3 separate regions of the Homo sapiens genome follow, and all the other regions are linked to region 3. The links come from fine-mapping of genetic effects on gene expression. A gene starts in region 3. Each other region holds a variant in brackets. All regions are shown on one strand. Distances are between the middles of the regions. Region 1 has its middle 51 kb from the start of IER2. Region 2 overlaps BRME1 (break repair meiotic recombinase recruitment factor 1). Region 3 holds the start of MISP3 (MISP family member 3).

Evidence for each region. PIP is the estimated chance that this variant, and not a neighbour inherited with it, causes the effect. A credible set is the group of variants that fine-mapping cannot tell apart.
Region 1: its variant is the best candidate, but not a certain one, in a credible set for the expression of MISP3 in CD4 T cells (BLUEPRINT, PIP 0.79).
Region 2: its variant is the best candidate, but not a certain one, in a credible set for the expression of MISP3 in testis (GTEx, PIP 0.84).

Annotation. Positions count from the first base shown.
Region 1 is chr19:13,199,023-13,203,186 of GRCh38, forward strand. No RefSeq gene overlaps it. Among named protein-coding and RNA genes, the nearest start is that of IER2, 51 kb to the left of the region's middle. RefSeq lists a silencer at 4,049-4,164. The variant G/A (reference allele first, on the strand shown) is at 2,033.
Region 2 is chr19:13,892,324-13,896,487 of GRCh38, forward strand. BRME1 (break repair meiotic recombinase recruitment factor 1) reads right to left here. Exons shown (of 9, transcript NM_001345843.2): 3 at 3,049-3,223; 4 at 819-900; 5 at 463-567. Among named protein-coding and RNA genes, the nearest start is that of BRME1, 12 kb to the right of the region's middle. The variant A/G (reference allele first, on the strand shown) is at 2,482.
Region 3 is chr19:14,070,845-14,075,008 of GRCh38, forward strand. It overlaps MISP3 (MISP family member 3), which reads left to right and starts at 1,942. Exons shown (of 3, transcript NM_001291291.2): 1 at 1,942-3,033; 2 at 3,546-3,619; 3 at 3,862-4,164. The coding sequence starts at 2,466. The coding sequence ends at 3,879. MIR1199 (microRNA 1199) reads left to right here and starts at 2,517; the gene lies at 2,517-2,635. It also overlaps the pseudogene EEF1DP1. RefSeq lists silencers at 1,761-1,930, 2,501-2,910 and an enhancer at 3,098-3,618.

The sequences.
Region 1 (4,164 bases), 870 kb before region 3:
GAGTGATTCGTCATCACAGTAACCGTGTACTTCAGGTAAACGCTCAGAAGGAAGCCAGTTCCCACAGGACTCACAGTGGGAGACAGAGCGGAGCGTCCAGTGCTTCCTCGGCTAGCTGTATCCCACGATGCCGGGTCATTTGCGGACACAGTCTGCACCTCCTTTATCGCTTGTGTTACTGATGTGGGTTGAATAGCATCTGCTTTAGTCTGTTTGGACTGCTATAACAAAATATCGTAGACTGGGGGATTCATGAACGACAGAAACGTGTAGCTCACATTTCTGGAGGCAGGGAAGTCCAAGGATAGGATTTTTTTTTTTTTTTTTGAGACGGAGTTTTGCTCTTGTTGCCCAGGCTAGTGTGCAGTGGCGCAATGTTGGCTCACTGCAACCTCCACCTTCCAGTCTCAAGTGATTCTCCTGCCTCAGCCTCCCAAGTCACTGGGATTACAGGCGCCCACCACCATGCTCAGGTATTTTTTTTTGTATTTTTAGTAGAGACGGGGTTTCACCATGTTGGTCAGGCTGGTCTCGAACTGCTGACCTTGTGATCCACCTGCCTCGGCCTCCTAGAGTGCTGGGATTACAGGCTTGAGCCACCACGCCCAGCCCTGACTTTTTTTTTTTTTGAGACAGAGGTTCGCTCTTGTTGCCCAGGCTGGAGGGCGATGATGCGATCTTGGCTCACTGCAGCCTCCGTCTCCCAGGTTCAAGCGATTCTCTTGTCTCAGCCTCCTGAGTAGCTGGGACTACAGGTGTCTGCCACAATGCCTGGTTATTTATTTATTTATTTTTGTATTTTTAGTAGAGAAGGGGTTTCTCCATGTTGGCCATGCTGGTCTTGAACTCCTGATCTCAGGTGATCCGCCTGCCTCGGCCTCCCAGAGTGCTGGGATTATGTGTGTAAACCACTGTGCCCAGCCAAATGTCTGCTATTGTAAGCCACCCAGCCTGTGATAATTTATTACAGCAGCCACAGGAAGAGACTAATACAACTCCTATTTCTTTAATTTTTTATTTTATTTTATTTTTTTGAGACGGAGTTTCCCTCTGTCTCCCAGGCTGGAGTGCAGTGGCATGATCTCGGCTCACTACGACCTCCGCTTCCCAGGTTCAAGCCAATTCTCCTGCCTCAGCCTCCTGAGTAGCTGGGATTACAGGTGCCCGCTACCACACCTGGCTGATTTTTGTATTTTTAGTAGAGATGGGGTTTCATCATGTTGTCCAGGCTGGTCTTGAACTCCTGACCTCAGGTGATGCACCCACCTCGGCCTCCCGAAGTGCTGGGATTACAGGCATGAGCCACCATGCCTGGCCCAACTCCTATTTCTTTAATTTTTTTTTGAGATGGGTTCTTGCTAGGTTGCCCAGTCTGCTCTCAAACTCCTGGGCTCAAGTGATCCTCTCGCCTTAGCCTTAGCTGGGACTACAGGTGCTTGCTACCACACCTGACTTCTTTAATTTTTTTTTTTTTTTTTTTTTTTTGAGATGATGCCTTGCTCTATCTCCCAGACTGGAGGCTCTGTCACCCAGGCTGGAGTGCAGTGGTGCAATCTTGTCTCACTGCAACCTCTGCCTCCCGTGTTCAAGCGATTCTCCTGCCTCAGTCTCCTGAGTAGGTGGGATTACAGGCACCCGCTGCCACACCTGGCTAATTTCTGTATTTTTTAGTAGAGACGGGGTTTCACCATGTTGGCTAGGCTGGTCTCGAACTCCTGACCTTGTGATCTACCTGCCTCGGCCTCCCAAAGTGCTGGGATTACAGGCATCAGCCACTGCGCCTGGCCACTTTTTTTTTTTTTTTAACTTGAAACATTTTATCTTTTTTTTTTTTTTTGAGATAGGGTTTCGCTCTGTCACCCAGGCTGGAGTACAGTGGTGTGATGACAGCTCACTGAAGCTTCAACCTCCTGGGCTCAGGTGATCCTCCCACCTCAGCCTCCCAAAATATTGGATTATAGGCATGAGCCACTGCACCTGGCCTGTTTTATCACTTCTTTTAAATTTTTTTTTTGAGAAAGAGCCTTGCTCC[G/A]TCACCCAGGCTGGAGTACAGTGGTGCGATCTCGGCTCACTGCAACCTCCGCCTCCCGGGTTCAAGCGATTGTCCTGCCTCAGCCTCCCGAGTAGCTGGGATTACAGGCATGCACCACCACACCCAGCTAACTTTGTATTTTTAGTAGAGATGGGGTTTCTCCACGTTGGTCAGGCTGGTCTGGAACTCCCGACCTCAGGTGATCTGCTCGCCTCGGCCTTCCAAAGTGCTGGGATTATAGGCGTGAGCCTCTGTGCCTGGCCCAGTTTTTTAAATTTATTTATTTTTTTGAGACAGAGCCTCTCTCCATCGCCCAGGCTGGAGTGCAGTGGTGTGATCTTGGCTCACTGCAACCTCCAGGGTTCAAGTGATTCTCCTGCCTTGGCCTCCTGAGTAGCTGGGACTACAGGTGCACGCCACCTCCCCTGTCTAATTTTTGTACAGTAGAGACGGGGTTTTGCCATGTTGGCCAGGCTGTTCTCAAACTCCTGACCTCCATGATCTGCCTGCCTCAGGCTTCCAAAGTGCTGGGATTACAGGCGTGAGCCACCGTGCCCGGCCCTGTTTTATCACTTTAATCATTGGTATCTGTAAGAGACTGGCTTTGCTGGGCTGGTGGGGCTTTCTCCAATGCACAGTGAAATAAATGCAGCTTCCTGGCTGGGTGTCCTGACCCCATCCTCTCTGCTTCCGGGTATTTCCCTAAAGTTGAGCCTTCACCCCAGCGTTGCCCTGAGTTCCTGAGGCTGGGGTTCCAGTCCTGGAAGCTGGGGTGCTCTGGCTGGGCCCCCTGCACAGTCTGGGCTCTCTCACAAGTCCTCCAGCAGAGCGATGTCACCCTTCCACGTCCCCACCCCAGTTCTCTGACGGCAGCTGAAGGGGATCAGGATATGTTACTCTTAAAAATATATCACTTAGAGACCGGGCACAGTGACTCACGCCTGTAATCCAGCACTCTGGGAGGTGGAGGTGAGTGGATCATTTGAGCTCGGGAGTTCGAGACCAGCCTGGGCAACATGGCAAAACTCCATCTCTACCAAAAATACAAAAAATTCACCAGGCATATGGTGGCATCCACCTGTGGTCCCAGCTACTTGGGAGGCTGAGGTGGGAGGATGGCTCGAGGCTGCGAGGCTGAGGTTGCAGTGAGCCGAGATTGCACCACTGCCCTCCAGCCTGGGTGACAGAGCAAGACCCTGTCTCAAACAAACAAACAAACAATCTATTATCTATCTATCTATCTATCTATCTATCTATCTATCTATCTATGTATCTATCTATGTATCTATCTATCAACTTTAGCATAAGAATTATTCTGAGCTGAATGCAATAGAAAATCAGTAGATGGCCAGGCGCGGTGGCTGACGCCTATAATCCCAGCACTTTGGGAGGCCGAGGTGGGTGGATCACCTGAGGTCAGGAGTTGGAGACCATCCTGGCCAATATGGTGAAACCTTGTCTCTACTGAAAATATAAAAAATTAGCTGGGCATGGTGGTGGGAACCTATAGTCCCAGCTACTCGGGAGGCTGAGGCACAAGAATCCCTTGAACCTGGGAGGTGGAGGTTGCAGTGAGTCGAGATCCTGACACTACAATCCAGCCTGGGCAACAGAGCGAGACTCTGTCTCAAAAAAAAAAAAAAAAAAAAAAAATCAGTAGAGGCAGAAAGAATTCTCTGCTCTCTACTTTTCTGCCTCAAAGCCAGGCATAAACTTCTCTTTAAGAAGGTGACATAAGGCTGGGCGTGGTGGCTCACTCCTGTAATCCCAGCACTTTGGGAGGCCGAGGCGGGCAGATCACAAGGTCAGGAGATCAAGACCATCCTGGCTAACACGGTGAAACCCTGTCTCTACTAAAAATACAAAAAAATTAGCTGGGCATGGTGGCGGGCACCTATAGTTCCAGCTACTCAGGAGGCTGAGGCAGGAGAATGGCGTGATCCCAGGAGGCAGAGCTTGCAGTGAGCCAAGATTGCACCACTGCACTCCAGCCTGGGCAACAGAGTGCGACTCCGTTTCAAAAAAAAAGGTGACATAAATTTTCCTTTGTGGAGGTATCCCCCCGTCTCCTTACCAGGGAGAGCAGAATGACTCCTATCACTGCAGATAGTCAGTCCCAAGATGAGTCTACA
Region 2 (4,164 bases), 180 kb before region 3:
GCCTGTAATCCCAGCACTTTGGGTGGCTGAGGCGGGCAGATCACCTGAGGTCAGGAGTTCAAGACCAGGCTGGCCAACATGGTAAAACCCCGTCTCTACTAAAAATACAAAAATTAGCTGGGCGCGGTGGGCAGGCGTCTGTTATCCCAGCTACTTGGGAGGCTGAGGCGGGAGAATTGCTTGAACCCAGTGGGGCAGAGGTTGCAGTGTGCCAAGATGGCACCATCGCACTCCAGCCTGGGTGACAAGAGTGAAACTCTGTCTCAAAAAAAAGAAAAAAAATAAAATAAAGAATTGTTGCATAGTCAACACACATCCATAGCGCAATGTACTGAAAACGGTGGGTGGAGAGGTGCAGGCCTCACCATTGCCAAAGAACTCCAGGGTTAAATGGGGCTGCCGAGGCTGGGCCAGGAGGCTGCACCTGCGCTGGGCTCAGCCTGGCTGATTTTAGAGCCTTACCAGGCTAAAGGCCCCACTCCCACGGTCCTCATCCTTCATCTCTTCTTTTCTTGTCACTGTCTTCCTGGATTTTGCAAACTGGGGAACAAACCTCCCGAATGAGTTCTGTAAACCGGATACAAGAACAAAGCAGCAATAAAGATAAGAGAGGAATGAGGTCTTAGGAAAAAAGCAACCCCAAACCTGCTCCTTTCTTGTAGCCTTGAGAGAACTCCACCCTTGCCCTCTGGGCACATTCCCTCCAGCCCCTGTAGACCATGAGTGAGCAATTGGTGACAAAGAAGGGAGACACAGAGCCGGAACTTTAAGGGAGGCAGTGGTGCTTCTATATCCACGAGGCCACAGGACGAGCTCACCTGGGAAGGAGGAAGGGGAGCTGGCTCCTTTTCTGGTTGACGGAGGAGCCGGCAGGGAGATCCTGTTTCCTCATCAGGGGAGCTATGTAGGAAAAGATAAAACTGAAGGAGATCTGCCCGGGTGCGGTGGCTCACACCTGTAATTGCAGCACTTTGGGCGGCTGAGGCGGGCAGATCACCGAGGCCAGGAGTTCGAGACCAACCTGGGGAACATGGTGAAACCGTATCTCTACTAAAAATACAAAAATTAGCTGGATGTGGTGGCGCACGCCTGTAATCCCAGCTACTTGGGAGGCTGAGGCAGAATGGCTTGAACTCAGGAGATGGTGTTTGCAGTGAGCCAAGATTGTGCTACTGCATTCCAGCCTAGGTGAGAGAACAAGGTTCTGTGTCAAAAACAAACAAACGAGGGGGATCTGAAATCCTCCTAGGTTGTCACTCACCTATCGAGACAAACGCAAAACAAAATCCAACAGGAAACCAGTGCTAAGAGTCTCCTAGGCTGGGCGTGGTGGCTCATCCCTTTAATCCCAGCACTGTGGGAAGCTGAGGTGGGTGGATGCCCAGGAGTTTGAGACCAGCCTGAGCAACATAGTGAGACCCCTTTTCTACAAAAAATTTAAAAATTAGCTGGACGTGGTGATGTGTGCCTGTGGCCCCAGCTACTTGAGAGGCTGAAATGTCACGATCATCTGAGCCAGGGGAGTTCAGGCTGCAATGAGCTATGATCACGCCACTGCACTCCAGCCTGGGTGACAGAGCAAGACCCTATCTCAAAAAAAAAAAAATGTCTGCTAGATGGAAGGCCCTGGAAAACCTGCTTTGAAAGAGTGGGATGGGGATGGAGAAGCAGTGACCTGAGAACATTTAACTGTCAAGGAGGGTGCAGAGTCCCACCTGGAGAATACACTGCCTTAACAGGTGACTTTGTTACATTTATAATCCCAGGAATTGCCTTCTGAACTGGGAATAGGGATATTCTCATTTGGACGGACACTCCAGCCCTGACACGGCACATTCTAGGGAAAGGAAATTGTGGATGCAAGAAACATAGTGTCTTTAAAAACTAGTGAAACTTAGGGTTATATTTAAATAAATAAGGGCCAGGCGTGGTGGCTCACGCCTGTAATCCCAGCACTTTGGGAGGCCGAGGCGGGCGGATCACCTTAAGTCAGGAGTTCGAGACCAGCCTGGCCAACATGGTGAAACCCCGTCTCTACTAAAAATACAAAAATTAGTTGGGTGTGGTGGCGGGCGCCTTTCATCCCAGCTACTCAGGAGGCTGAGGCAGGAGAATCGCTTGAACCCGGGAGGTGGAGGTTGCAGTGAGCCGAGATTGTGCCACTGCACTCCAGCCTGGGTGACAGAGAAAGACCCTGTCTCAAATAAATAAATAAATAAATAAGGATATGTATATCGTTTTGTTTTGGCTAATTATTTTATTTCTTGTAGATATGGGGTCATCCTTGTTATGTTACACAGGCTCCTCTTGAACTCCTGGGCTCAAGCGATCCTCTTGCCTCAGCCTCCCAGTGTGCTGGGATTATAGGCATGAGCCACTGCACTCAGCCCTGATTGCTTTTCTTTTTTTATTGGTCGTTAGCTCACATAACAACAATTCCTTTGTTCCCTTCTTGATTAAGGAAGAGGAGGAATGTGGAAG[A/G]AGGATGGGTTTGACCAGCAGACAGAATATGAGTTCTGTAACCCTGAAAAATGCAATGTTATCTTTGCCCACAGTTAAAACTTTTTTTTCTTTTTTTAGATGGAGTCTCGCTGTTGCCCAGGCTGGAGCGTAGTGGCATGATCTCAGCTTACTGCAACCTCTGCCTCCTGGGTTCAGTCGATTCTCCTGCCTTAGCCTCCTGAGTATCTGGGATTACAGGTGCGCCACCACACCCAGCTAATTTTTGTATTTTTAGTAGAGACGGGGTTTTGCAGTGTTGGCCAGTCTTGTCTCAAACTCGTGACCTCAAGTGATCTTCCCCCCTCGGCCTCCCAAAGTGTTGGGATTACAGGCATTAGCCACCATGCCCGGCTAAAACATCAACCCTTCTTACCAGCGAGGAAAGCTAGGAGAAGCGAGATCCGAGGGCCCTGAGCTCTGGGAGGGAGTGGGTCACAGCACTAGATAGGTTGTGGGTCTCTTTCCCAAAGCATTGCTGTCTGCTGAGCTGCTGTGCTATGTGGACTGTCAGTGGGGAGACCTGCCGGAATGTTCAGAGCCACCTACCTGGAGACGGCCTTTCCTGGTTCCTCCCCGTGCTGCTGTGTAGAGGGAACAGGTCCCAATTTGCCCTCTGGCTCCTCAGGGTGATGTAAACAGCCCAACATGGAACTCTGGGGGTCCCCATAGAAGTCTCCTAGCCTTGGGTTCTTTAGGGGTTTTGGAGGACAGAGTCCCTCTCCTGTTTTAGAGACAGAGGAAGATGAAGGGGTGGGGGATACAGCCACTGCTCATGGCTGACAACTCAGGTCTCCCCCACTACAACCAGGCTGCACGCGAGAAGGGGCCGAATCCATTTCACTCTCTGCGGGGTCCCAAGTGCCTGTAAGAGCATCTTGTACACTGTTGGTGCTCAATAAATAAATTATCCATGACTGGATAAATGCACACCACCAAGGGCAGACAAGACTAAATTATGTACCATTCTAATGTGCTGAGACATCTGCAAAATAGCCATCCTGGGAAAACTGGGACTCACAGCCACCGGGTGCTGAAGAGGTGATGCTTTGGCCACGTCCTGGCCCCTTGCATTTCTGCACTAACTTCCCCATCACTGAAAGCAATTGCGATGTGTCTTCTTCTGGCATTTAAGAGGCTAAAGATGCTTATTGACATCTTTGTATATATAGCGCAGTGGCTCACGCCTATAATCCCAGCACTTTGGGAGGCCGAGGCGGGTGGATCACCTAAGGTCAGGAGTTCAAGACCAGCCTGGCCAACATGGCAAAACCCCGTCTCTACTGAAAATACAAAAATTAGCCGGGCATGGTGGCACCCACCTATAGTCCCAGCTACTTGGGAGGCTGAGGCAGGAGAATCGCTTGAACCTGGTAGGCGGAAGTTGCAGTGAGCTGAGATTGCGCTACTGCACTCCAGCCTGGTTGACAGAGCGAGACTCTGTCTCAAAAAAAAATTAATATATATTATATATCATATATAAAATACATACATATTCATATTTAATATATACATACATATAAAATATATAATTATAATGTATTTACATATTGCATATTTATAATTATAAAATATATTATTTAAATTATATATTTATGATATATTAATATATTATAAACATTATATCCTTGTATTATATTATATATTTATATATGATATATATTT
Region 3 (4,164 bases):
GAGGATGACGAGGATGATGACATCGACCTGTTTGGCAGCGACAATGAGGAGGAGGACAAGGAGGCGGCACAGCTGCGGGAGGAGCGGCTACGGCAGTACGCGGAGAAGGCCAAGAAGCCTGCATTAGTGGCCAAGTCCTCCATCCTGCTGGATGTCAAGCCTTGGGACGATGAGACGGACATGGCCCAGCTGGAGGCCTGTGTGCGCTCTATCGAGCTGGACGGGCTGGTCTGGGGGACCTCCAAGCTGATGCCCGTGGGCTACGGTATCCGGAAGCTACAGATTCAGTGTGTGGTGGAGGACGACAAGGTGGGGACTTACTTGCTGGAGGAGGAGATCACTAAATTTGAGGAGCACGTGCAGAGTGTCGATATCGCAGCTTTCAACAAGATCTGAAGCCTGAGTGTGTGTATGTGTGCGCGTGCGTAAGGCCCTGCCACGATTAAAGACTGAGACCGGCAAAAAAAAAAAAAAAAAAAAAAAAGAAAAAAAAAAGAAAGAAAGAAAAGAAAAAGAAAAAGAAAAAAATGTTCCCGTGAAAGGGGGCCAAGAACCCAGCCCAGTTGGCATGGCTGGAGGAAGGACCAGGAGATGATGCAGTGGGGAAGGTGCTATAGAGAAAACTTTTTCCCAGAAGTATACAGCTTATTTATTTATTTATTTATTTATTTATTTTGAGACAGAGTTTTGCTCTTGCTGCCTAGGCTAGAGTGCAGTGGCGCGATCTTGGCTCACTGTAACCTCCACCTCCCAGGTTCAAGTGATTCTCCCACCTCAGCTTCCCGAGTAGCTGGGATTACAGGCGCCCACCACCAGGCCTGGCTAATTTTTTTTTTGTATTTTTAGTAGAGACGGGGTTTGGCCATGCTGGCCAGGCTGGTTTCGAACTGCTGACCTCAGGTGATCCTCCCGCCTCGGCCTCTCAAAGTGCTGGCATCACGGGCATGAGCCTCCATGCCCGGCCGGTAACTGTATTTTTCCTTCTGGGCACCCCAGAATGGTGGGGTTGGGGGCAGGTTCTGGGAAGAGTCTGCTTCCATTAGGGGGAAAGTGGAAAACGTCCCTAGGGGAGGGTGGCCCGCGCAAGGGCATCGATCCTGCCCTTGAACCGCATGATCCGGCCCCAGCTGCTCTTTCCCCCTACCCTGGACGCCTCCTGTTTCCTGTCTGGGCCTCCCCAGGCGCCCGGGCCCAAGGTGACCGCCTTTCAACTGCAACCGCTAAGCTGCGCCCACGGCGCACTGTGTCCGTCTCTCCCTCCTCCCTCAATCCGGGAGTGCCCTTGGCAGCGGACACCTCCCGGATTTTTCCGGGAGGAGAGGGGAAGCCGCTTCTCGGCTTGGCGTGGGGGCAGTGGTGCGCGGCTGGGAACCTCGCTGAGCCCAAGCATTGGTAGGGAGACCCCAGCGGCCAGTAAGGCGGCTCCTGGCGCCCCCTCGGGCCGGAGCTGTGCGCTGCAAGGCTGGATCGGAGGGAGGGCCCAGGGGCCTGAGGAGTCGCTGCCTGCCGGCTGGCACGACCAAGCGGGACTGCCCGGGTCCCGAAAATACGGCTTCGGGGGACACCTCACCAAGCGGCTAGTGGTTCAGAACCCCAGTCCGACGCGCTGCTGGGCCCAGTCTCCGGGACGATGACGGGGACATGGCTCTGAAAAAGTGCCAGGGTGCGCTCAGTAGAACCCAGCACCCAGAATGGCCCCCCAGAGAGCGGGGCCGGGTCTAGGGAAGCCCTCTTCCAAGAAGTCCCGTGCCCTGAGGTGACTGGGCGCGCTAGTTGATGAAACTGAGTGCCCCACCGAGGCGCCCCTGTCCCGAGGGCGGGGCCAGGGCGGGGCGGGAGTCCTCCTGGCAGGTGCCGGGGGCGGTGCCCGGCCCTGCCCCCGGGGGCCGTTCCTGGAGGCCAGAGGCGGGTCAGAGAAGCCGCCGGTGCGGGCGACGCCTTGGAACCCACGGCCGCCACTGCCGCCACAGGTGCCTCACAGTGCCCTCTGTCCTCGCTCTGGGAATCAAAACCCCGGTTGGGAACTGAGGCTTCCGAACTGCTTCCAACCCTGGACACGAAGGCCCCCACCGGCCGGAGAACGAAACCCTGGGGTCGTCTGAAGAGGAGGGCCAGGAGTCCCCAGGGCCAGACAGCGAAGCCCCAGAGCTGCTGCGGAGCTGAACACCGAGGTCCCCAAGCCCTCCGCAAAGGACGTGGAGATCCTGGAGCAAGAGAGCGAAGTCCTCGAGCCATCAGTCGAGCAGGACGCAGAGAGCCCCGGGCTGTCCACAGCTGCGGGCTTTGAGAGTCCTGAGCCAGGCAGAGACGACCCTGGGCCGTCCGAAGCGCAAAGGGCGGAGGTCCAGGGGCAGCATCCCCCTCCAGGCCCTAAGACCTCCTCCTCCAGGTCAGGCTCGGAAGCCCCCCACCTGCGTTTTCCGCCGTGCCCCGAGGCTCCCCAGCGTCCCCCGGAGGAGCGGTTCATGGAGACGCCCATCGAGCGCGAAATCCGCCGCAGCTGCGAACGCGAGGAGAGCCTGCGCCGGAGCCGGGGCCTGAGCCCGGGCCGCGCAGGCCGTGAACTCGTCGAGCTGCGCGTGCGGCCGGTGCTCAACCTGCCGGGTCCTGGCCCCGCGCTCCCGCGCGCCCTGGAGCGGGCGCGGGCGGGCGCGCAGATGCAGCGGGACATCGAGCGGGAGGCCCACCGGCAGGCGGCGCTGGCGCGCCCCGCGGTCCCCGAGCCGCGCGCCCGGTCGCCGCCGCAGCCGCTGGGCGAACTCAAGCGCTTCTTCGAGGCCGCGGCGGGGAGCGGCTCCTCGGCGGGGGCGGGGGACGGCGCGGGCCCGCAGAGGCTGCCAGAGCCTGGGGGACGGCCGCGCTCGGCCGTGCAGGGCGGGTGCCGGGTGCTGGGCAGCGCCCCGCCGCCTTTCACTCCGTCACTGCTGGAGCAGGAGGTGCGCGCCGTGCGCGAGCGCGAGCAGGAACTGCAGCGCCAGCGGCGCAGCGTCTATGGCACCGCGGAGTTCAAGGAGCCTACGCCGAGCCTCACCGGTAAGCCGCGGGCGTAGCAACGCCGGGACCCCCAGGGTTCCAGCCGCCCCCACCGATTGCCCAACTTCAGTGGCCCCTCCTGTGGCCCTCCGATTCTCGGGGTCTCTCCCTCCAAGCTCCCAGACCCCCTCTCAATTTTGTCTCTTGCCTACCCCTTCTGGAGCTCCATTACTCGCTGTGATCCACCCCTCCACCGGGAGTGATGGACTCTCTGATCCACACCACCCAGGCTGCGCGGGGGTGGGGGCATTCCAGATGTCTTCCTTTTTGTCGGGTTCCAGGGAACCCTGACTGGGTTCTGGCACTCCTGGGTCCTCCCTCTGAATTTTCGGGCTCCTGCTTCTCCATTCTGGGTTCACCTCCCTCCTCCCTCGGGTTCCTGGGTGCCTGGAGTTGAATGGAGGCTTTCATGGGGAGGCGGAGGGTGAACGCCTGTGTGTGTTTAAGGGGTGCGGCCGGCCTTTCATCCTGGCTGCCGCCAGCTGGTGAGCTGAGCGCCCCTTCCCCCGCAGCGAGCAGGGGCGACGGAAAGTTGGTGGTGATCTGGCCCCCCCGCAGAAAGGTCTCGGAGAACGGCCTGGAGCAGGTGGGAGCCCCCTTACCCGTGTGCCTCTAGCGCTTGTCGGTCCCCCCACCCCTCCGGTGCCAGGACGCTTGGTGGGGAAAAGTGCATCCTCCCTGGAGGGCCACTCTGGTCAGAACTCAGTCTGGGACGCATCCCCGGGGTGAAGAGGAGACGGTGGTCTTGAGGCCCAAACCGCCACCCCGAGCCTGGATGCAGTGCGCAGGTCCCTGAGGCCGGCCTTCCTTCTGGTCCTCTGTCCCCAGGAGGAGCGCAAACCTTGAGGTTTGAAAAGGCTGGGACCCCCGGCCGGAAGTAACGTACGCGTCAGAGGAACAGGGCGGGGGGCGTCTAGCATTAGGCCTGGAGAAGGGTCGGCTCTCTGCATTGGGGAAGATGAAATCGACTTGCCTTTGTGAAATTGACCAGCCCCCTCTATAAAACTTACAGTCCCCCATTGGGAAACTGACCACCACCCACAACTCCGCCAGTGAAACTGCCCAGCCCTTCTCTGCCTAATTGCAAACTGAACTACCCTCTCCCTTGACTGTTAAGAGGGCCGGAGTTAC